Regions from separate parts of the Homo sapiens genome. Here all the other regions are linked to region 1. Evidence: fine-mapped expression QTL. A gene starts in region 1. Each other region holds a variant in brackets. All regions are shown on one strand. Distances are between the middles of the regions.

Region 1 (8,181 bases):
CGCCCCCATGATTCAATTACCTCCACCTGGTCTCTCCCTTGATTAGCTTATGGGGATTACAATTCAAGATGAGATTTGAGTGGGGACACAAAGCCTAACCATATTAGTTGTTATAAGATATTTAATACTGGGCTGGGTGTGGAATCACAGCTGTAATTCCAGCACTTTCAGAGGCCAAGATGGGAGGCCAAGGCCTGATCCCAGTAGTTGAAGACCAGCCTGAGCAACTTGGCAAATCCTGTCCCTACCAAGAATATAAAAATTAGCCGGGTGTGGTGGTACATGCCTGTAGTTCCAGCTACTCGGGACACTGAGCATGACAGGTCAAGGCCACAGTGAGCTTGAACATGCCACTGCACACGCCAGCCTGGGTGACAGAGTGAGATGCTGTCTCAAACAGAAAACAAAAACTAAACAAGATATCCAATATTAAAAACCTGTCGTTTTTGACTGCCTTTCTTTACTCCACCACATCCAAACTATTATTCAGGTTATCTCTCAAATCTCACCTCTTCTACATCATTGCCGAGTTTGGTTCGGGCTCCTTTCTCCCTTTACACAAACCCTACAATGGCCTCTTAAACCAGTGTCAGGATGTCAAGATATTCCTCCTTATGAATCACATTAAATGGCATTTTGAGTGTGTCTGTGTGACAGAGAGTGTGAATACGAGTGTGTCTCTAGAGAAGTCAAACTACAACCTCAAAATGAGATTCTGATACAAGTACTACACCTGCTCCCCCTCATCCCTCCTATATCCCCCTATCTTTGGGCTAAAAATCCTCTTTGGGTAATAAATGATGAGAAGCAGTGAAACAGTTTAGAACCACTGCTCAAAATCCACCCTTCACATTCCCACCAATTCTCAACAAAGAACTTGTCATCAGTTAACTACTTACAAACCTTTATGGCTTCCCCATAAAAGGCCCTTCACAATCTGGTCCAACCCTTCGTTCTCAGCATCATCTCTTTACAACCCTCTACCATAGGATTCTCGCTCCAAAACAAGGCCGACCTGTTCCCAAACAAACCATGTACTTTTTCACATTTGGTTCTCTTGCCTAGGTGGACCTGTTCCCACTTTGGCTTGAAGAAATCTCATTTATTTAGTGTCTGTCCTATGAAAGTCACTGTAGTAAAATATATTTTCCAAGATGGTGGCAATAAGATGCCCCATTCCAAATGTTCTTTTCACAATGTGACACTGATGCTCCTCCCATCAAGGTTTGTTCTATGTCCCCTCCCTTAAAACCAGGTGGACCTGTGACTCTGGTAGAAGAGTTCCTATGTGCTTCTAAGGTAAGGTCGTAAAAGGCATTAAGGCTTCTGCCTGGTCCTCGTGGGTTGTTCCTCTTCTAACCATAATTGTTATGGATTGAATTGTCCACCCCCCACCAATTCATATGCTGAAACCCTAATTCCCAATGTGACTATATTTGGACGTAGGGCCTTTAAGGAAGTAGTTAAGGTTAAATAAGGTCATACGGGTGAGCCCTATTCCAAAAGGACCTAGTGTCCACATAAGAAGAATAAGAGGCACCAGGAGTGTACATGCGCAGACTAACTGAAAAGCCAGCTGGCTGCAAGCTAGGAAGAGAGGCCACATCGGAAGCCAATCCTGCCAACACCTTGATCTTGGACTATCAGCCTCCAGATCCACGAGAAAACAGATTTGTTGTTTAATCCACCTAATTTGTGGTATTCTGTTCTAGCAGCCCAAATGACTGATACAATAATATGTTTCCAACAAGTGAGACAGGGGCCTTGCTTCACCCATCTCTGTATCTTAAGAACCTAGCACAGACCTGACACTAACCATGTAGTTGGTGAATATCTGCTGAATGAACGCGCATAAAGCAAGGAAGGACAATTTAATCCCAGCACTTTGGGAGGCCAAGATGGGAGGCTGGCTTGAGCTCAGGAGTTCGAGACCAGCCTGGGCAATATAGCAAGACCTCGACTCTACTAAAAAAAATAAAATAAATAAAAAATTGGCTGGGCGTGGTGGTGCTTGCCTGTCGTCCCAGCTACTCCAGAGGCTGAGGCAGAAGGATCTCTTGAGCTCGGGAGTTCGAGGCTGCAGTGAGCAGTGATTGCACCACTGCACTCCAGCCTAGGCGACAGAGAGAGAGACCCTGTGTCCAAAAAAAAAAAAAAAAAAAAACCCCAAAATTATAGCTAATATCGAATGCTTTTTAAAGCAGGCACTATGCTAGAGAGATTACATGAATGATGTCATTTAATCTTCAGGCCAAGTTTGCTCTACTTTACCCCTCCCGGCCCCAACACTCCACAGAAAGTAGTGAGCTACATGGTAGAGGGCCTGCTTTTATGTGGTGGTTATACATAACTCTGAGATTACGGCAAGAAAGTCAAATCGAACTGAGACAGGGACTAAAGTTAGTGTTTACAGTATCAATACTATAAAGAAAATAATTACATTCCCAAGGAAAAGTACAAAGAAAGGAGGTAGTGTCATTTGGAAGAACCTTAAATATGCAGTGTCACTGAAGTCAGGGGAAGAAAAGAATTTCACGGAGAAGGGCGTGTTCAATGCGTGGAAGGCTGCAGAGTAGATAATGAAGATTCAAAAAGGCAAATCTGAGAGGAGTTGCAGTACAGTCGTGTGGTTTCTAGACTACACGGCGTTTCGAAAGTGGGTAAAGGCAGACATCACGCGTCTTCAAGAAGTTCAGAAGAAAGAGGAAGAGTGTTGTCATAGTGGGTAAGGTCAAGTATCTTTGATTGCAAAACAACAGTCGCCAGAAGAGAAGGGGCTAAAAGTTGGAACGAGGAAGAAGGCTCGGAGAAAGGTGTCAGACAAAGCGGGATTAGCAAGAAGCTGTTAGGGCTGGTCCTACCGGGATGAGAGAAAGGCGCAGAGGCCAGCCGAGTGGAAAGAGCAGCGGTGACGAACCGGGTTCCACTCAGACGTCCGACACTTCTCGCCAAGGGGCCAGCGCGGACAGCAGCGCCTCCCGGGGACCTCTGAGAAGCCCTGTTTCTGCGCGGCTCCGCCCGACCTCCAAGGCCGACCTCGGAGGCTCAGAGACCCAGGCCCCGTTGGCACTCACCCCACTGCCACGCGGCGCCAGCGCCGGACTGGCCGCACGATAAGCGCGTCCCAGGCTGCCGCCAACCGGCCCTCGGGGGAGACGGGTCCCGGGGGCGCAGGCGCGGGCCCCAGACACAGCGAGCTCCAGAGAGAGCGCAGCGCCGAGCCTGGCAGCTCTGGCTCCAGCAGGAAGACGCAGCCCACGGCCAGCGCCAGGAAGCCCGCGTACGCGGAGCCGCGCCACAGCGCCATGGGGACCCAGGCGCCGCACCTGCGCGAACCAACTCCTTTCCTAGCCCGCGCCTCTTCCGGGCTCGGCGCGCGCCGATGTCGACACAAGCGCTACGTCACAAGGGTGCGCCACGGGGCCCCCCAAGGGGCGGGGCGACGGGCGGCGCCAGGACGGAGCGAGGGGGGACCCCACGCCTCAGTCCCAGGCCTGGCACTGCGGTGTTGCCGCCCCGGAGGAGGTGGGACAACGGCGGTTGTGCCAGTCCGGGCGCTGCACCCCCTTCCCGGAACTCTAATCGTATCCCCAAATAGAGGGATGGGAACACATTTGCTTTCGCAGTAAAACGAAACGGACAGATTGTGAAGAAGCGGACAAACCTCGCGTTAATATTCGAACCAGTGGGTGTCCCCATTGGCACGGATCACACCCCCATCTTTTAATCCCTCCCTCCGCCCGTGTCCCCTCATTTGCTAGACTTGTCCTCTTCCAGGCCTAGTGCTCGGCGCTTCTGAGAGGAATAGGCTCACAGAATAGCGGCGCTGCCGAGACCCCTGGGGTACGCGAGGCAGGGGGATTCCGCCCCTTTGGAAGGTGGCCGAGACCCTCAGCCACTAAAGGACTTCGTCGAGACAGGAGAGCCCGCAGAGATCGTTCTCTTCTGGATAACCAGATTATTCCACAATCAAACTTTAACCCTTTTGGGGGCGCTGTTCCCTTTAACAAACTCTGGAAAATGTACACAATCTTGTGCACAACACGAGAGTTATGGACCTGGGTTGAGAAACGCTGCTTTCTTTTGTTCCCCCTTGGTGACATCACTTAAACCCAGCCCTCTCTTCGCTGATACTTTTCTGTGCATGAGGCTAGGTTGAGAGACAGTGAAGCTAGGCTGGGTACCAGCTCATTCTCATCAGCCACAATGCCCGGCCTAGTCTTGTTCCCTGGTTTGTTTCCACTTTTCCAATTCTCTCGGCTCCTGACCTTGGCTTTGTGTCCAGTTTTCCACTGTGACCCTGACCTTTGGACTTGGCAGCGAAACTTTATTTCCCTAACTTTGATCTTGGGCATTAGTCTTCATTCTCCTCAGCCCCACCTCATCAGAACTTCCCCATCCTGGTCATCTACCTTCCCGCAGTTCATCCTACCCAGCCTACCTGACCATGCCATCCCTTTCGACAAAGATATTCACACAGGAACAGATTTGGGCTACCTTGGAAAAGAAGCCAAAGAGCCAGTCAGATCTTTATGAAGCCATGAAAGCCATCTTCCCTAGAGTTGCCTGTCACTTCTCTCTCCTTAGGGAGACATGTCAGTCAGTTCCTAGAGAAACTGCTTCTTCTCACAACCCTCAGCTGTCAGGTTTCCCTGGCACCCAGAGGGGACTGAGCCAGCAGCTGACCTGAAAACAGCGAGTCTGCTGACTGTCCAGCGATCATTTCCCTCTATTGAGAATTTTAACCAAGTTTCTGTTGTCTGTAGTTATTTGATATTGGCTGTGGACCCACAAAGTCACACAAGGCTAAAGGTCAGAACCAGTTAAATATGTTTCCAAGGTGAAGTTTTGGGGAGCACAGGAAGCTGAACTGTGGGAAGGTGATAGAACAGACAGATCTAGAGGACTAGGAGAGTGCTCCACATTAAAGTGATGTGGACAGAAACCTGCCTGGGGCTTTCTTGCTCCCACGAGAGGCTGCTAAACTTCCAGCACTTTGCACCTAATTCTTCTGCTTCTTTCTAGATTTGCCAGAATTGTTGATTTAGTCACAGAGACAAAACAACAGCAGTTGAACAAAGTGGATGTTTATTTCTCATGTAAAAGTCTAAATGGGGTGTTGGCATGTTGTGGGCTGTGGTAGCAAGCTTGGCCCCCTCTGGTTGCTATGGGACCTGCTGTGGGCCTCTTGCTGGTTAGTCACTCAGTGTGGGTTTGCATTGTGGGTGGTGAAGGGGGCCAGACAAGGAAACGAGAGAGCTGACCTCAATTCCAACTGAGAACTGAAGAGTCAGGAGCCGCAGGAGGTGAAGAACAGAACACCAGGGACAGTTGCCAGGCCTGGCGGAGCCTGATGTGGCTTCTGGTCACATACAGAGTCACAGGGCCCTTAATTCCTTCTCATCGGGGCTCAGGGGCAGGCATTCACTGTCTTGGTGCCACAGTCCCTCTTGAAATATTTCCTTAACGAAAATCAGAAAAGATTCTGATCATCTATCTGTTCAGAGAGTCTGGAATCCTTTGCAAGCCAATTGTTTTTCTAGAAGTTAGGTTTCTGGGGACAATTAAAACAGCTCTGAGTGGGCAGCTGTGGCTCCTTTGCCTAGGCTGAACAAAGAGGAAAGGGCTGGGCTGGGCAGGCCTCAAGACACCCCCCGCCCCCACCCAAATTGCTTCCAGACATGGCCTTTCCTATTGGTTCTCTCTCCTAGGACCTTGAAATGAGAGAAGAAAAGCAATTTGGTTCTAGAAAATTCAGAGGCAAATGGAGGCTCCAGGTGCCCCACCCAAGATCCTGACCTGGAAGGCCAGGGAGCAGATCCTGTATGAACACAAAGAATTAGCAGAATCCTGTCAGCTTCCAAATTAGCTGAAGGTTTTGGCTTTAACATAAATACCCATCAGCGTCACCCCCGCAATCTGAAAGGCCTTAAGGGGCACATTTGTTCCCACGTGGAGCAGAAACTAAAGTGGGACCAAATGGTCCCTGTGAAAGCTGGGCTAACCCACTTTCCTTGCAGCTCCAGGCCTCTGGGGTTTCATCCAAGCTGCTCTTTGAAGGCCACACTGTGTCAAAGCCTTTGTTGATGCCAGGGACACAGCCCACCACAGGCCATGCCCAAAGGCCAGAGTCAGAGCACAATTTTGAAGATTACAGAAAACTCCAAAGAGATTGAAGAGATGGAATAAAGGATCCCAGCCCCCGAAAAGAGAAAGCTTTGTGTCTGTAGCCATAGCCCTTGGCAATCAGACATCCTCCTCACTAATGTGAGGTCAGGAGGGGACTAGAAGTGCTCAGAGGATGGACTGCCTCTGGCCAGTGCAGGGGAGAGGCAGGGGTGTTGAGGCACAGGAGCCAGATGAGAGGAACGTCAGCAGCAAAGCAGTAAGAAGAACATGAGAGTTTCTTGATAGTAATAGAACTTCCTACACAGACTGGGAACCGGGTTGTAGCTTGAGGGGATGTGACAACATAGTGGCCCGGAATTTTCACTTTGGAAATTAACTGCTTTGGACCAGGAAGAAGCGCTGAGCCTAGAAAGGCAGGAGGCACAGGACTGTGTGGGCTTCTGTCTGGCAGGGACCTATGAGCTTCATAGGGCGAATGAATCGGGGCAGGATAAAGCAGAGGCCTCCACCCTCACAGTGCTCTTAGCCATCTCAGGCTTCCCGGAACACTGCTACCAGGCTGCCTGCTGGAGCCCTTTACACTCACAGGCCTTCCTGCTTGGGTTCTCTTCTGCAGGCTGCGTAAACCAGTCCTGTTGTAGCCCTTGTAGCATCTGCTGTAGTGATCTGGTTTGGGTTTCAGTATTACTTGCAATGGTTTGGAAGGAAATGGGAAGTTTGCCTTCTAACTACATTTTCTTTTTGATTCAAGAACCCTAGCAGTTCTACAACCACTGGGCCTAAAACTAAAATAAAGGAAAAATAAATAAAAGGAAGCAAAAACATCTAACTGGGATGGCCTGGCAGCATTGCCAGAGAGAGTCCTCAGGGGCCCATGCTTGTTCTGTCTTTTGCTCTGCCATCCCTAGGGTGGACAGCACGGAAGAGGCAGTACATCTTAACAAAATCAGGGTTCTGGATGAAGGGAGGGGTGGTGAATGGTTGCTGCAATCAACAGTTCATACTTCAATGGAAAGAAGGTGGGATTTGATTCCTGGCTGCAAATCTTCACTCTGTCACCTGCTATCTGTGTGCCCTCAGGTAAGTCATTTAACTTTTCTGTTCTTCAGTTTCCTTATATGCAAAATAATTCCTACTTTGCAGAATGGTTGTGGGAGGTAGAGTTATCTTAAGACAGTCTAGCACAGTGTCTGCTACATGCTGGAATTCAAAACATTCCCTGCTGTTGCTATGGTTGGTTCTGAGAGCTATATTTAATTTTCTTTTTAGTCTTTCTTGCTGGTCTGTCACTCTCTTACTATAAGGAAGACAGCCATTTCTGCATAGGTCACTATGCAGTAGCCTTTTCTATTTTTTGACGGCTTAGCATCTATGTAATATCCCACTGAATGAAAATACTAAAATTTATCTATTGTACTATGAATAGACGATTTGGAGTTTTCCCAGTTTTTTTACTATTACATACAGTGTTGCTATGTATATGCTGTGGTACACGTGTATAGCCATTTCTTCAGGGTAGAAACAAAGTAACATTTCTGGGTCATATGATATGCCTGTCTTCAACTTTACTATATAATATCTGACATCTTTCCAAAGTGGTATGCCAGTTTATCTTCCCACTGGCAGCATATGAGAATTTCTGTTGCTCCAGCTACACTCCAACAGATTCTTAAAGCTTTGTCATTTTGTAGGGTGTGTAGTGGTATCTTACTGTGGTTTTGACAAGTTTCCATTTGTTGGTTATTTGCAAGTATCTTGCCTCCCTCCCAGTCACTTGTCTATTCATTCTTTTTATAATATCTTTAGTGAGTAGAGTTCTATGAAAAATTATTCTTATTTATGTATTTTTGTAGAGATAGGGTCTCTCTGTGTTGCCCAGGATGGTTTTGAATTCCTGACCTCGAGAGATCCTCCTGCCTTGGCCTCCCAAGGTGCTAGGAATACAGTTGTGAGCTACCATGCGCAGGCTTAAAGTTCTTCGTTTTTAGTGTAGTTACCGTTTTGTTCTTTTTTTATTACTACTTTCCCCTTATCATTGGTGCTTTTTGTTAC
Region 2 (8,181 bases), 52 kb before region 1:
CTTGAACTCGGAAGGCAGAGGTTGCAGTGAGCTGAGATTGAGTCACTGCACTCCATCCTGGGTGACAGAGCCAGATCCTGTCTCAGAAAAAAAAAAAAATTCTTATGCTATCCAGGAAAGAGCATATATGAGAAATAACTCTGGTCTTGGAGGCTGTTATTTTGTTGTGAGGAGAGAAACAGATACAAGTGAGCACTTAGGGCTTTGGGGCAAAGCCATTTCTTTTGATCTTTCTTCCCAGCCAGAGTCTTATTGGAAAGAGAGAAGGCAAAGTATACTTTTATCTAGAATAAGAAGTTTTCTGTCCCCTCAACATTCCTGAATGTGAATGGGATTCTTTTAGCTCCATTGATTCTCTGGCTGAGGACCCAGGGCCCAGGTATCCAAGGGGCTTTTCCCTCTTCCCCAATATACACATTTGCCAAGTTCCTTGGTCAGCTGATTCTGCCTCCAGCCCTGCCTCTGTGGTGGCCTTTATGTCTATTTCATTTTTCTTTAAAAGGAATCAGGAGCTTAACCCTGGGTCTTCCTGGGCTTTGGCTTGGGAGGTTGGCTCCACGGGAGATGAGGATACCCAGCTCATTTCCTGCAAAGAGGCATTAATGTGGAACAGTACTAGTGTGGCAGAGATGGTTCTTATCAAATAGATACTTTGACCTTATCAGGTGACAAATTAACAAAAATAGAAGGAAAACCATGACTGGGGATTTTTAGTTTTCTTTCTTTATTATCTGGTAACTGTAGCTGCTTTTTTTTTTTTTTTTTTTTTTTTTAAAGTCAAGAGAACTCAAAAAAGCCAGAGCATTTCTGTTCTGGGTGAGGTTGGCCAGACTGTTTTTTTTTTTTTTTTTTTGGAGACGGAGTTTCACTCTTTTTGCCTAGGCTAGAGTGCAATGGCGTGATCTCGGCTCACTGCAACCTCTGCCTCCTGGGTTCAAGCGATTCTCCTGCCTCAGCCTCCCAAGTAGCTGGGATTACAGGCATGTGCCACCATGCCTGGGTAATTTTGTATTTTTAGTAGAGATGGGGTTTCTCCATGTTGGTCAGGCTGGTCTCGAACTCCTGACCTCAGGTGATCCACCCACCTTAGCCTCCCAAAGTGCTGGGATTATAGGCATTAGCCACCACGCCTGGTCTGGCCAGACTCTTTTAACTGCCGTCTCCTTGCTGATGTAAATTGTCTTGTTTGCTTTTTTTCCAAGCTCGGCATTTACCAGAAGGCATTTGAACATCTTGGCAATGCACTGACTTATGACCCTACCAACTACAAGGTATTACAGGCTGTGAAGGCTCTGGCCTTCATATAGACGGTCCCACTGCTCCTAGAGGTGATCTGACCCTGGAAAGCAAAGGAATAGCTTCTTAAATTTGGATACCTGAGAAATAGAAAAAATATAAATAAAAGGTGGCTCTTCTTATTTGAAAATAGTGTCAAGTATGCTCTACTTATCTTCTAAAAGTGCACATTTGTTATAATAGACGTGTAACCCCTGCAGAAGGCAGATCATAGTGCTAGTAAAGCTTATGTGTTACTTAGGAAATTAGCAATGCCTCCACAACTATTGTCAAAAATAAATCTGCGGCCCGGCGCGGTGGCTCACGCCTGTAATCCCAGCACTTTGGGAGGCTGAGGTGGGCAGATCACGAGGTCAGGAGATCGAGACCATCCTGGCTAACACAGTGAAACCCCGTCTCTACTAAAAATACAAAAAAATTAGCCGGGCGTGGTGGCGGGCGCCTGTAGTCCCAGCTCCTCGGGAGGCTGAGGCAGGAGAATGGCGTGAACCCGGGAGGCAGAGCTTGCAGTGAGCTGAGATCACGCGCCACTGCACTCCAGCCTGGGTGACAGAGCGAGACTCTGTCTCAAAAAAAAAAAAAATAAAAAATAAAAAAAATAAATCTGCTGGGCATGGTGGCTTATGCCTGTAATCCCAGCACTTTGGAATGCTGAGGCAGGAGGATCACTTGAGGCCAGGAGTTCAAGACCAGGCTGGGCCACATAGTGAGACCCCCATTTCTACAAAAAAAATTATCCAGGCATGGTGGCACACACCTGTAGTCCTAGCCACTCGGAAGGTGGAAGAGGGAAGATCACTTGAGCCCAGGAGTTTGAGTCTACAGTGGGCTATGATGGCACCACTATACTCCAGCCTGGGTGACAGAGACCCTGTCTCTAAAAAGAAACAATAATTATGTTGAAATGACTTCTAGAGTCCTAATGATTTGATACTACAACTTTTTTTCTAGATGTGACTTTGGGAATGAGAAGGAATAGCATCAAATGGATGAACATCATTGAGGAGATGCAGCAAGACAAGCTGTTTATTAAAGGATACAAACTGAATTCTGATTTAGGAAGTAACATTAGACTGTCAGCTCCCACCTTGATACCTTTCCTTAGAGAAATGAAAGGGCTGGGCTGATGAAGCCTAAAGCTGACTCGCCCTCTGTTCTACGGTAGAAAGAAATTTACCTTAAGTAGCCACGTACAGGTGTATTTCAGGTATCTAGAACACTTGGTATACCAAATAGGGGCTGCAGAGAACAGATTAAAGGAAGTTTTTACTTAAAGGGCTCTGGTATTCATTCTGAAATACTGACTTTCCTGGCTAGAAGTAGGAAACAGATGGGTAAAGCAAGTAACATTTTATCTTTTTTTTTTTTTTTTTTTTTTTTTTTTTTTGTGCTGTGCCAGAGAGCCACAGTGTAGAGTGCAAGGACATTCCTCAGGAACATTTGTCCCAATAGGTTGGATATATTTATGTCCCTGGAAGAAATTTTCCAGTCCCATCTATGCTGATGGGCCTGCTGAGTATAGACTCAGGAAAGCTGCCCCACTGCTACAGCCTTTTGGGAATGACTGAATGACTTTCTCTGTGCCATGTTTTCAGGCCATCTTGGCAGCAGGCAGCATGATGCAGACCCACGGGGACTTTGATGTTGCCCTCACCAAATACAGAGTTGTGGCTTGTGCTGTTCCAGAAAGTCCTCCACTCTGGAATAACATTGGAATGTGTTTCTTTGGCAAGAAGAAATATGTGGCGGTGAGTGTCCCCTCATGTTCTTTGTTTGTATTTCTACATGTGGTTATTGGGTCTGTTTAGCTTGCCCTTCTCATTGAGTGCCCCTTCTCTCTCATAGGCCATCAGCTGCCTGAAACGAGCCAACTACTTGGCACCCTTTGATTGGAAGATTCTGTATAATTTGGGCCTTGTCCATTTGACCATGCAGCAGTATGCATCAGCTTTTCATTTTCTCAGTGCGGCCATCAACTTCCAGCCAAAGATGGGGGAGCTCTACATGCTCTTGGCAGGTAAGAAACATTTATGTGGAAAACTCTCTCTGCCATCTGTAATGAGGGAAAAATGGATTAGAATCATAGAAGATCAGTGGCTGTCTCATAGGAGCCATTCCCTTAGAGATCCTGTAGGAATCTGGATTACTGTCCTGGAGCTTGAAGAAATAGAAAAAGATGACAAAGGAACTTGGTTGTTTCTAACTTGGGGGAGTTTGACTCAGAGACCAACAGGTTAAATAAAGATCATCCCTAGTTCACCTTTTACCAGTTTTTTCCTCTTGCCTTGACAATTCATTTATGTATATATTGAGTCCAACTAAGTTCCAGACAGCAAGTGTTAAGAGCTTGGGTTTTAGGTAGGGTCCTGCCTCTACTACTTATTATATGTACCTAGGGCTGATGTGAGGATTGCATGATTAAGCTCTCAATTAATAATACTGGTTTTGTTGAAATACTGATTTTTGAAAACTGTTGGTTTTACTGTGGTTATATAATTGGTCTATTATTATCAATATTGTTGTTACTATAATTGGCCCCTAGGTGATACTTCCAAGTCAAGCTACCTTATGTTGAAACCCTTATCTCTTCTGAGCATGTTATATAGAATGCCATTCTCTTCCTGAAACTCCATTTTATGCCATGCAAATACTAAAATTGATCATAAAAATAAGTTAAAATTAATCAAACACTTTAACAATTATGCACAACCATTTTAAAGTACTGACTAGTCTTTCTAGGAATTTTTTTCTCCATATACATTTACTTACTAAATGTAAGACCCAAAGCAGATTTCCATGTCCTCATTTGGCAGTCGTCTTCCAGTGGCTTTTTGTTCATTACTGTGGGTTCTTATTTAAAAGAGAAAGCTTGCAAAAGCAATTGTGGTTATTTGAGGGTTGCCTGAATACAAAGATAACTTTAAAAAAAAAACATAGGTTTTATTATTATTCAG[A/C]TATGGTATGGGCAACAGATCAGAAGACATCTGCCACTGGAAAGATAGTCTGTTACAATTCCTGAGAAGGAGGGCATGCTACACCGTGCAGGGCCACATGGGGAAGCACCAGGTCAATCAGGAGGTAGAGGGAGCAAGGGGTAAATGTGGGCACAATTCTTTATTGTAGTTTTCATGGGTAGAAATGCCCTCCCCGGGGCAAGACCGGGAAAGCAGGTTAACCAGGTTGGGGATTGGCCAGTTTGAATAATTTCAGTGGGCTCTGGGCTATAGGGCTGTCTCTAGGTGTCTGGTACCTGACCCTCGGGTGACTAGGACTAGGGAATATTGGCCCAGTGTCAGGGCCCAGTAAAGGAGGCAGTTAAGAATATGAACACTGGGTTGGTCGGTCTGCATACAGAAGGTACTCTTGTAGGGGTTATATCTAGGAATTAGCTGACTGTGGGAGGGACAGTCTCCCCAGGGTCAGTAAGGCCCCAGATGTCAAAACATCAGAATAAAAAGGCTAAAGTGGGGTGTGATGGTACATACCTGTAGTGCTGGCTACTTGGGAGGCTAAGGCAGGAAGTTTGCTTAAGCCCAGGAGTTGGGAGTACAGCCTGGGCAACACAGTGAGACTCCATTCCTCTCTCTTTTTTTAAAAATTTTATTTTAGGTTCAGGGGTACATGTGCATCCTGTTACACAGGCACGTGTGTCATGGGGATTAGTTGTACAGATTATTTCATCACCCAGGTACTAAGCCTAGTACCCAATAGTTATTTTTTTCTGGCCCTCCCCCTCCTCCAGTAAGCTCCAGTGTCTGTTTCCCTCTGTGTCTCCATGTGTTCTCATCATTTAGCTCTTATAGTGAGAACATGCAGGATTTGGTTTTCTATCCTTTATTAATTTGCTAAGGATGGTGGCCTCCAGCTCCATCTATGTTGCTGCAAAGGACACGATCTTGTTCTTTTGTATGGCTGTGTCGTATTCCATGGTGTACATTTACATTTTGTTTATCCAGTCTACCATTGATGGGCATTTAGGTTGATTTCACATCTTTGCTATTGTGAATAGTGCTGCATTGAACACACACATGCATGTGTCTTTATGGCAGAACGATTTACATTCCTTTGGGCATATACCCAGTAATGGGATTGCTGGGTCGAAGGGTAGTTGTATTTTTAGCTCTTTGGGGAATTGCCAGATTGCTTTCCACAATGGTTGAACTAATTTACACTCCCATCAACAGTGTATAAGCATTCCCTTTTCTCTGCAGCCTCACCAGGATGTTATATTTTGAGTTTTTAATAATAGCCATTTTGACTGGTGTGAGATGGTTATCTCACTGTGGTTTCAATTTGCATTTCTCTAATCAGTGATAGAGTTTTTCATATGCTTGTTGGCTGCATACATGACTTCTTTTGAAGTGTCTGTTTATGTCCTTTGCCCATTTTAATGGGATTGTATTCTTCTTGTAAATTTGCTTAAGTTCCTTATAGATCCTGGATATTAGACCTGCATGGTTTGCAAATATTTTCTCCCATTTTGTACATTGTCTGTTTACTGTGTTGATAGTTTCTTTAGATAGCTGGGTTCTAATGGAACACAGAAATGTAAACAGCCATAATGTAAGAGATAACAGCGATGCTAACTTTACAAAGTAGAGATGGCATTCAAACTGGATCCTGAACAACAAGCTAAAATGGAATAGCACAGAATGGCTGAGGAGCCACTGTGAAGAAAGGCATGCAGCCATGAAACTGCAGTGTCCCTTGCTGTTAGTGGGGGTTAGTGTTAGAGAATATGATGGGAGATGAATCAGGAAAGATATTCTGGGGTCAGATTATGGAGGTCATGCGTACAGTGCAAGGACTTTATCTTAGAGGCCATGTTTGTCCAGCTGTCTTCCTAGATCTCCTCTTAGGTGCCTGGTAGGAGTGAGTGCATAGCTGGTGGGGAGGTGGAATGGGCAGGGCTTCCAGAGCAGCTGTTTTTGTTTTATATATTAGGTGTCAAGGAAATACTGATTTTAAAAAGTGGGGGGAGTGTTTTACTGCTAAATGAAAGTGTAAAGATCATGGTTATAGATGTGGGGGGCCAGTGAGGATTCCTAAGTAGGATGGTAATGTGGTCAGATTTGTAAGGCAGTGAGATACCTGGCAGCGCTGTGGAAGGTGGAATGGAGGCAGGTGGGGACTTTGACACTGGGGAATAAATGGAAAGCCTAAAACTACTTGGGCCTGAACAAGGGCAGTGTCAGAAAAGAAACTGCAAAAAAAGGATGCATAGAACCTGGCAACTGATTGACTGTAGAAGAGATGGTTGAAGATAGCACCAGGTATCTAAGCTGACTTAGTAAACTCTGGTGCCATGAGCTGACAGGGTGAAGTTTACTTTGGGGGTAGTCTTTAATACTCCTTTTGTCTTCTAAGCTGAGCTCTCCAGCTGCAGTGCTTTCTTTGTTGCAGTGGCTCTGACCAATCTGGAAGATATAGAAAATGCCAAGAGAGCCTACGCAGAAGCAGTCCACCTGGATAAGTATGCACTTTGTTGAGAATGGTACTGGCGGGGGTTGGACTCTCCAAAGCCATGAGGTGGTGCCATACATAGCATTGGTGCTGCCTGTGTCAGCCCAGCTGTTCCTCTATGGCATTAGTACATAGCAGACCTCAGTGTGGAGGGATGTGTCTCCTAAGTATGTGGTGGCTCAGCAGGAATTGACACTCTGAGAAAATGTTTCCAGTCCTAAACTGAGTAATCAGGAGGCTAGAGAATGTCAGAACTGGCAGTGGGCTTGGGTTGCTGATAGCTATGGGCTAGCTGGAATATCAGATGGGACTCTGGGCTGTTTAATTCAAGATAAAACTTGACTCTTCCAGGATTTACTCCGCTGGCATCTTCTAGACAGCAGGGTAGAGATCCCTTTTTCAACCCTGGCCTAGGTAGTCTCTGTTGAGGGCTGAGATGCCAGATTTGGTCCCAATACCAGCTTTGCTTGTTAGGCCATTAACTCCTTGATTCTTCTCCACAGGTCTGCTTAGCACGTATGTACCTACCTTGCTGCATAATGGAGAAATCTCTACTTAACCAGTTTTGTTTTGTTTTTGTGTAATGAGAAGGATCTCTAAATGACCATTTGTTGCAGAGCCCCCAGCTCCATAGAATCTCTGTCTGCCACAGGTGTAACCCTTTAGTAAACCTGAACTATGCTGTGCTGCTGTACAACCAGGGCGAGAAGAAGAACGCCCTGGCCCAATATCAGGAGATGGAGAAGAAAGTCAGCCTACTCAAGGACAATAGCTCTCTGGAATTTGACTCTGAGGTATGTCTTTTATTAGCTCCCAAGAGTCATAAGTAAGCTCTCAGGAGACTTTTAAAAATCAAGCCCAGATCATCCAAATCCAAGGTATTACACGTTCATGGCTGTTCTGGCTTTGATGTTCCTAGCAGCATGAGTTCATCAATTAATAACAGCCTGAGAAAAACTTTCCTAGAATAATAATAAAAGGAAATTCAGGCTTACTGAGTTGTTATTGCTAATTCAACTCATCAAAGTTGAGGTCTGTGTCTGTCTGTAGCTTCCTTCTATTTCACTTTTTTTTTTTTTTTTTTTTTGAGACGGAATCTCGCTCTGTTGCCCAGGCTGGAGTGCAATGGCGCAATCTCAGTTCACTGCAACCTCCGCCTCCTGGGTTCAAGCAATTCTCCTGCCTCAGCCTTCCAAGTAGCTGGGACTACAGGCGCGTGCCACCACGCCCAGCTAATTTTTGTATTTTTAGTAGAGACGGGGTTTCACCATGTTGGCCAGGATGGTCTTGATCTCTTGACCTCGTGATCCACGTGCCCAGCCCTATTTCACTTGTTGTAGGAAATGCACTGTTTGGCCCGGTAATGCACCAGGCTTGAATTGTTGGGTTTTGAGATCCTATGTGAACCACCATGCCATCCAG
Region 3 (8,181 bases), 20 kb after region 1:
CCAGCCACCCTGGTCTGACTCTGCATGCCTTTCAGCTGAAGGAACAATTGCTGCCTGCAACAGTCATTCAGTTTCCCAAGGAATCAACCTCTCTGTGTGACTGGGGAAAAGGAAACAGACATCAAGAGGTCTGCTGGCAGGGGCTGATGCAAGGATTGTAAATCTCTGCTTCATCACATGTGCATTATTTGGGAAGTGGCTGGAAGTTCAATTCATGCATCTACTGGCAGTGCATCTAGGGGAAAGAGCGGGAACACAGGAAGAGGAACAGGCTGTTTCATCCTTAATTCTGCCACTTACTGGCTATGTGTCCAAGGGCAAGCTGCTTAATTTTTCTGTACCTCATTCCCTTATCTGTAAATCAAGGGAAACAACGCCCACATCATGAAGTCATTGTGATGAGTAAATTAAACAATACGTATCATGGATCTTAATAAGCGTCTCAGTCAACACAGAAGTTCCCTCTCTTAAGGGTGACGTTTTGATAATGACACCTTTTCAAAATGAGGATCTCAAAGAACATCCCCAAACATTAGAGGAGGAGGGAGTCTTTTTTCCTTTAGTGTGTCCATTCAGCAGCAGCCTTGTGCCTGTGTACCACCGTGAGAATGGCAAAGTCCAGTCCTGCCTGCCCTCCTGTGCCACTCACGGCCACACGTTTTTAATTTTCACCACACTCATGCAATCTCCTGCACACATCGTGATACTTCGTGCCTCCGTACCTTTGCTTGTGCAGCTCCTGCAGCCTGGAATGTTCTCTCCCACTCCACTGTACCTGGCAAATGCTCACTTATACCTCAAAACATATCAGGACAAAGGACATAGTATTTAGTCTAACACATCTGGCTGTTTGCCTGGAAGAGAACCAGAGTGAACCCCTATCTCTAGCCATATACAAAGATAAAATTCCAGAGGGATTAAGGGCTTAAAAATGTAAAAAATAAAATGTTAACTATCTGTCAAGACAAGCCACAATGCAACATTAGCGTGTACCTGCCAGAGTAGCTAAAATGCAAACGTCAGATGATAGAAAGTATTGGGGTGGGTGTAGAGCAGCTAGAAGTCTCTTACATTACTGGTGAGAGTGTAATTGATAACGGCCACTTTGGATGACTGGCAATATCCACAAAAGCTGAACATACACGTTCTCTATGACCCAAAAATTACACTCTTGGGTAAATACTCAACAGAAATGCAGACATAAATTCACCAAAGAAAGTTTGCAAGAATGTTCATAGCAGCACTATTTGTAATAGCCCCAAATTGGAAGCAACCCAAACGTCTATCAACAGTAAAACATAAAGTGTGGTATGTTACATACAGGACTGCTGCACAGCAACGAGAATGAATGAACTACATGAATTCATCTCACAAACATAATGCTGAGTCAAAGAAGCTAGATACAAAAGAGTACACATGGATATTTCATTTAAATAATGTTCAAACACTAACCTACGATGTTAGAAGTCAGGGTAGAGGTTAATCTTTGAGGACGGTTGTGACTGGCAAGGGGGTGTGAACTGAAGGAATGTCTAGGGTACTGGTAAGATTCTGTTTCCTGATTTCAGTCCTGGCTACATGAGTGTGTTCACCTCGTGAAAATTTATTGATCCATAAAAAGATGTGCATTATTTCATACATATATCTCAATAAAAATTTTGGCAAGGAGGCATCATATAATCTAAGGTTAGAATACCTTCTCAACCAAGGTTGGAAACCTAGAAGATGAAAAAGGTATTTTTGCATATATATACATATACATACACACACATATATATAGCATTTTTGTGGGAAAAGATACTGTAAGCAATGTCAAAAGACAAGCAGACTTGGAAAAAGTGTAATGCAGATGATGGACAAAGGCTAATACCTATAGTATGCAAAAAACTCTTATAAATTGATGCGAAAAGACAAACAATCCAATAATGAAATAGGCAAAATGATATGAGTAGGTGATTCAAAGAAGAAAAATATCCAACTGATGGAAAGATGCTCAGATTCATTAGAATTCAGTTGAATGCAAATTAAAGTAGTAATAAGATACTCATTTATGCTCTTCAGGCTGGCAAAATTAAAAAGAGTTTCTATAGGTATTGTGTGTGAGGTTGTGGGGAGCATGCTCTCATTCATTGCTGGTGGAGATGTAAATTATTACAGCCTTTTTGCAATCAATCTGGAAAAATCCATTAGAATTAAAAATACATATATCCTTTGACCTAGTGATCCCACTCCTGGGAATCTATTCCACAGAAATAGAAGGATCCACCTAAGGGTCCATGTAGAAGGGTGGTTATTGCAGCATTGATTGCAGAGGTGCATTCGTGGTGTGCATGCATGCACACACATGCACACACACAGAAAACAAAGCCTGTGCCTCTCAGCAGGGAAATGGTATAAATGGTGGTACTTTCCCTTGAGGCTCACAGTCTAGAGGGCTGGGGTAAACTCTTGCTGGTTCACAGGAGGTCTTCACATCTGGAGGGGGTGGTCTGGGAGTGGGGTGGGCAGAGTCATGGATGATGAGAAGCCCTCTTCCTCCTAGCCTGAGCTAGTAGCATTGATTCCAGAGCAGGCTTTGGAGAAGTGACTATTTAGAGTTCAGACATTCCCATGTCCCCTCTTGGCGGGACTCAGTTCCTATCCCTCCAGTATCAAAGAAGTGACATCAACAAAGGATCACAGAGGTAGCTCTTATTGACACCCACTGCGGGTCTCATTTAAAATGGCTTTCTTAAGCCAAAGGCAGGCAAATATCTCTACTAACTGAAGAACAAAGGAGACATGGAATCAATTGCAAATAATTATTTCTAAAAATCATGCCTCTCTTCTGAAGTTTGTGTTTGTCATATCTCTGTCTACCTAAAAATTGCTCTCTCTTAGGTGAATTAAAATATAGAGTCAATTCCCTAACATTCGGTCAGTTGTTGGGCAGCCCTGGCCTAGCTTAGGAAGGTAGCCCTAAGCAGGCCTTTAACACTAAGTGAAAGCCCCCGTAGCATATGTATAAATATTTAAAATCATAAACTAGGCCAATAAACTATTAGATAAAAAGTTCCATCTTTCTGTCTTGAAAAATATGCCCTCTTAAGATCAAAATTTTTAAAAAGTATAGCACTACGATTTTTATATGAACAAAAATTGGTAAAATAGTAAAGATGACAGAATTTAATTATGTGTGCATCTATTTGGATATTCTGTTGATGGGCTGGTGATGTTTTGGTAAGTTATAAAGTCAGCATATACCAAATTTATATTGTAAATCATTCAAATTATTATTTATCTTTTCATTAGATTTGTTTTTCTTACCTTCCTTATTGCAAAATTACCTAATTATGTTGTTATAATCAAGATTTTTGCACAATTTGTGTTTTATTGATGATGACGCCAAATTAGACTACCTTTTTTGAGTTGTAATTCTTAGATAATTAAAAAAATTAATTTCAATTTGGAGAAAGTTTCAGGAATAAATGGAATTTTCATTAAAATCTTAAAACGATGTTTACATTTGGAAATGAACCATGAATTTTACATATCCTGTTCAAATACTTTAGTAGAGTTGTGTTAGGTAAACTGTAATTATTGCAGAAAATACTACAAAATATTTTAACTTCATAATAGAAATTTCTATCATACTGCAATTTTTGCTATCTTTTAAGGTAATAGTTTATGCACTAACATGAAGAATAGCTTCGTACATATTACATCTACACTTATACCTCTACTGATTTGAAGGTAAAATAAAGTGTTCATATTGCACACATGTTCCTCAGCCACTGTACAACAATCAATACCACACTAATTCATGAGACCTCCTGAACCACGAACTGGAGCACAAAGAGAAACATGAAAATGGACGTGTGGCCCTACTGGGAAATGGTATTTCACTGTGCAAGAAACGATTGCGTTCTTGCTATCAGAGATAAAGGATTTGACAAGCTAATAAATTTGTCTTTTCCCTTACCTAAGTGCTTCCGCCACTCAAATCCTCCCTGTTCTCTGAAGCAGTGTCTGTCTCCAATATTGGCGGAAGCACAACCCAGAAACCTCCGTGACGTTCAGACATGGTTGCTTTCTGTTTTGAGGACACAGGGCAAAAGGTGAGGAGCCGCATTTCCCTGGGACCTGACCGGTGTTGTCATTGGAACTGACGTTTCTGTTGCCAGCAGCGCTATGCCAGCGCTGAGCACTCGATCCCATGTGCTCCATAACCAATACATTTTATGGGTGTTTGTGATATATGCAACCTTTTCAAGTAGGGCTTCTTAGTTTCTAATTATTAGTTTTTAATTTCCCAACCCAATACAGATCAATTATTTGATTCAATAATTCACTAGAAATAATTCACTAGAAAAATGAAATTAAAAAAAATCTATATGAGGACCTGTGGGGTGACTCACGCCTGTCCCAGTACTTTGGGAGGCTGAGGTGGGTGGATGATTTGAGGTCAGGAGTTTGAGACCAGCCTGGCCAATATGGTGAAACCCCATCTCTACTAAAAATACAAAAATTAGCCAGGCGTGGTGGTGGGTTCCTGTAATCACAGCTACTCGGGAGGCTGAGGTAGGAGAAACGCTTGAACCCAGGAGGCTGCTGCAGTGAGCCAGGATCACACCACTGCCCTCCAGCCTGGGCGATAGAGTGAGACTCTGTCT[CA/C]AAAAAAAAAAAAAAAAAAAATCTATACAAGTTACAAGCCCCAAGTTTTAAAGATTCAACAGATATAACCTTACTGTTAGTTTCTGTGTGTAACTCATCAAGAACAAGTAACAGACCACGTGTGGGCTGGCACTGGTCCACCGACCACACTTCTCTGTGGAGGACTGCTTCGAGTCACTGGAGTCACCAGATTCAGGGTAGGGACCCCCTCTTGCCTCTGTCTAAGAGTGGTGCCGGTAACCACGAGGCTGAATCCTGCCCCACAGTCTTTTTCAGTCTCTGTGTGAGCACTTTTGCCTGTGCCATGCAGCTCTCATTTCACGCCAAGTTCTCTGTTCTCTTACTGTCCTGATACAAGTCTAGCTCCCCACGGCCCCTTCATTTCCACCAGCCTTGCAGCCCCTTCTCCTTCCTGAGGGCCCCATATCAGTGTATGATGAGGGGCCTTGAATGCATGCCGAGAAAGGAAGCTTCTGAGCTGGGGGTCAACTCTGAGAATGTGATGTGGCCTTTCACCCAGCCAGGACCTCTCCTGGGCTAAGCTGTCAGCACCAGGGAGTCCACGTACAGCTGATGCCTCCCTGCGGTGGGGGAACAGAAAGGATGGGGCAGCTCCCCAGAAGGCCTTGGGATTTCTTAGCAGAGATAGGAACTCCCATTCACACTCTGCCAGGGGTCAGCAGCAGTTCTAGAGCTTACCACGTGCTCCCAGGAAATCATACATGTTTCTAAAATCATCCATGTATCTTTTTTTTGTCACCTACATTTTTTATTTATTTATTTATTTTTATTTATTTATTTATTTATTTATTTATTTTATTGATCATTCTTGGGTGTTTCTCGCAGAGGGGGATTTGGCAGGGTCATAGGACAATAGTGGAGGGAAGGTCAGCAGATAAACAAGTGAACAAAGGTCTCTGGTTTTCCTAGGCAGAGGACCCTGCGGCCTTCCGCAGTGTTTGTGTCCCTGGGTACTTGAGATTAGGGAGTGGTGATGACTCTTAACGAGCATGCTGCCTTCAAGCATCTGTTTAACAAAGCACATCTTGCACCGCCCTTAATCCATGTAACCCTGAGTGGACACAGCACATGTTTCAGAGAGCACAGGGTTGGGGGTAAGGTCACAGATCAACAGGATCCCAAGGCAGAAGAATTTTTCTTAGTACCGAACAAAATGAAAAGTCTCCCATGTCTACTTCTTTCTACACAGACACGGCAACCATCCGATTTCTCAATCTTTTCCCCACCTTTCCCCCCTTTCTATTCCACAAAACCGCCATTGTCATCATGGCCCGTTCTCAATGAGCTGTTGGGTACACCTCCCAGATGGGGTGGTGGCCGGGCAGAGGGGCTCCTCACTTCCCAGTAGGGGCGGCCGGGCAGAGGCGCCCCTCACCTCCTGGACGGGGCGGCTGGCCGGGCGGGGGGCTGACCCCCCCACCTCCCTCCCGGACGGGGCGGCTGGCTGGGCAGAGGGGCTCCTCACTTCCCAGTAGGGGCGGCTGGGCAGAGGCGCCCCTCACCTCCCAGACGGGGCGGCTGGCCGGGCAGGGGGCTGGCCCCCCACCTCCCTCCTAGACGGGGCGGCTGGCAGGGCAGAGGGGCTCCTCACTTCCCAGTAGGGGCGGCCGGGCAGAGGCGCCCCTCACCTCCCGGACGAGGCGGCTGGCCGGGCGGGGGGCTGACCCCCCCACCTCCCTCCCGGACGGGGTGGCTGCCGGGCGGAGACGCTCCTCACTTCCCAGAGGGGGTGGCTGCCGGGCGGAGGGGCTCCTCACTTCTCAGACGGGGCAGTTGCCAGGCGGAGGGTCTCCTCACTTCTCAGACGGGGCGGCTGGGCAGAGACACTCCTCACCTCCCAGACGGGGTCGCGGCCGGGCAGAGGCGCTCCTCACATCCCAGATGGGGTGGCGGGGCAGAGGCGCTCCCCACATCTCAGAGGATGGGAGGCCGGGCAGAGACGCTTCTCACTTCCTAGATGGGATGGCAGTGGGGAAGAGGCGCTCCTCACTTCCTAGATGGGATGGCGGCCGGGCAGAGACGCTCCTCACTTTCCAGACTGGGCAGCCAGGCAGAGGGGCTCCTCACGTCCCAGACGATGGGCGGCCAGGCAGAGACACTCCTCACTTCCCAGACAGGGTGGCGGCTGGGCAGAGGCTGCACTCGGCACTTTGGGGGGCCAAGGCAGGCGGCTGGGTGGTGGAGGTTGTAGCGAGCCGAGATCACGCCACTGCACTCCAGCCTGGGCACCATTGAGCACTGAGTGAACCAGACTCTGTCTGCAATCCCAGCACCTCGGGAGGCCGAGGCTGGCGGATCACTCGCGGTTAGGAGCTGGAGACCAGCCCGGCCAACACAGCGAAATCCCGTCTCCACCAAAAAAATACGAAAACCAGTCAGGCGTGGCGGCGCGCGCCTGCAATCGCAGGCACTTGGCAGGCTGAGGCAGGAGAATCAGGCAGGGAGGTTGCAGTGAGCCGAGATGGCAGCAGTACAGTCCAGCTTTGGCTCGGCATCAGAGGGAGACCGTGGAAAGAGAGGGAGAGGGAGACCGTGGGGAGAGGGAGAGGGAGAGGGAGGGGGAGGGGGAGAGGGAGAGGGAGAGGGACTCACCTACATTTTTTAAGGACCCAATTCCAATTTCCTGCCCTTATCATCTCTCCTTCTCATTGATATTTTTCCAGTAGATGTAGCTTTACTCATTACCAACTACTGCCAATTCACTTAAGCTTTCACCTTTAATGTTTTAAAATAACAAGGGAATTCAGAAGTATAGAATGTGGAAGTCTGCCTTCATCATCCTCACAGGCCTGTGCTCCTCAATCCCATTTCCATGAGTTAAGGACTTTTAGCAACTATTAACAGCATGTCCTTCCCAGTTCTTGCCTACACATTTCAAAACACCTATCTCTCTCATCACTCAAACTGGGGGAGCAGGATCATGAGCAGCCCTGTGGAGAGGCCCAAGTGGAGGGGAATTGAAGACTCTGGCCAGCCACCATGTGAGTGTTTGGAAGCAGGTCCTCCAGCCTCAGCTGGAGTTTCTCACGGCAACCTTTTGAGAAACTGAGTCAGGACTGCTCTGAAGCATTCGTTACCCTCAGAAACTATGAGATAATAAATTTAAGCTGCTAAGTTTGGGAGGTTCTGTGTTACATAGCAATATAATACAACTTTCATTTCTCTCCAATGACCGTGTTAGTTTTTAGCCCCTCTGTAGCAAAGCCCCTCAAAAGAGCTGTCTGTACACAGCGTCTCCCTTTCCACCCTGTTTTCTCCCACCCAATCCCATCTGTTCTAATATACATTCACTGAGGTCTGCTCCCTGTGAGACTAGGATGTGTAGTTAAAATGTCCTCATGTTCCCTGTTGCAGACCCTGAGATGAGGATTCTTATGCAAGCAATTTGTTGTGGAAGTGCTCCCGAGAGAAACAGGGCAAGGAAGCAGGGAAGCAGGACAGGGAAGGGGAGGAAGTCAGGTAAGGGTGAAATTTCAGGCAAAGTCCAGGTCTCAGAATGATCTTGAT

Direction of the effects. Alleles are on the strand shown, and positions count from the first base shown. SD is a standard deviation of normalised expression in the study named. Not every link is listed here.
For the expression in NK cells of the gene that starts at base 3,374 in region 1, allele C in region 3 goes with a lower level than allele CA (large effect, 0.75 SD a copy in Schmiedel 2018).

The links.
Region 2: its variant is fine-mapped to the expression of ADPGK in whole blood (TOPMed, PIP above 0.99).
Region 3: its variant is fine-mapped to the expression of ADPGK in NK cells (Schmiedel 2018, PIP 0.95).

The regions. Positions count from the first base shown.
Region 1 is chr15:72,780,385-72,788,565 of GRCh38, forward strand. ADPGK (ADP dependent glucokinase) reads right to left here and starts at 3,374. Exons shown (of 7, transcript NM_001365225.1): 1 at 3,075-3,374. The coding sequence starts at 3,307. It overlaps ADPGK-AS1 (ADPGK antisense RNA 1), which reads left to right and starts at 2,451. Exons shown (of 3, transcript NR_040107.1): 1 at 2,451-4,812; 2 at 7,038-7,209. RefSeq lists enhancers at 2,750-2,819, 3,580-3,639, 3,690-3,899 and a silencer at 3,070-3,529.
Region 2 is chr15:72,728,414-72,736,594 of GRCh38, forward strand. BBS4 (Bardet-Biedl syndrome 4) reads left to right here. Exons shown (of 16, transcript NM_033028.5): 10 at 1,203-1,271; 11 at 2,892-3,044; 12 at 3,142-3,313; 13 at 6,700-6,769; 14 at 7,412-7,553. Among named protein-coding and RNA genes, the nearest start is that of BBS4, 46 kb to the left of the region's middle. The variant A/C (reference allele first, on the strand shown) is at 4,251.
Region 3 is chr15:72,800,875-72,809,055 of GRCh38, forward strand. No RefSeq gene overlaps it. Among named protein-coding and RNA genes, the nearest start is that of ADPGK, 21 kb to the left of the region's middle. RefSeq lists an enhancer at 6,312-7,208. The variant CA/C (reference allele first, on the strand shown) is at 4,653.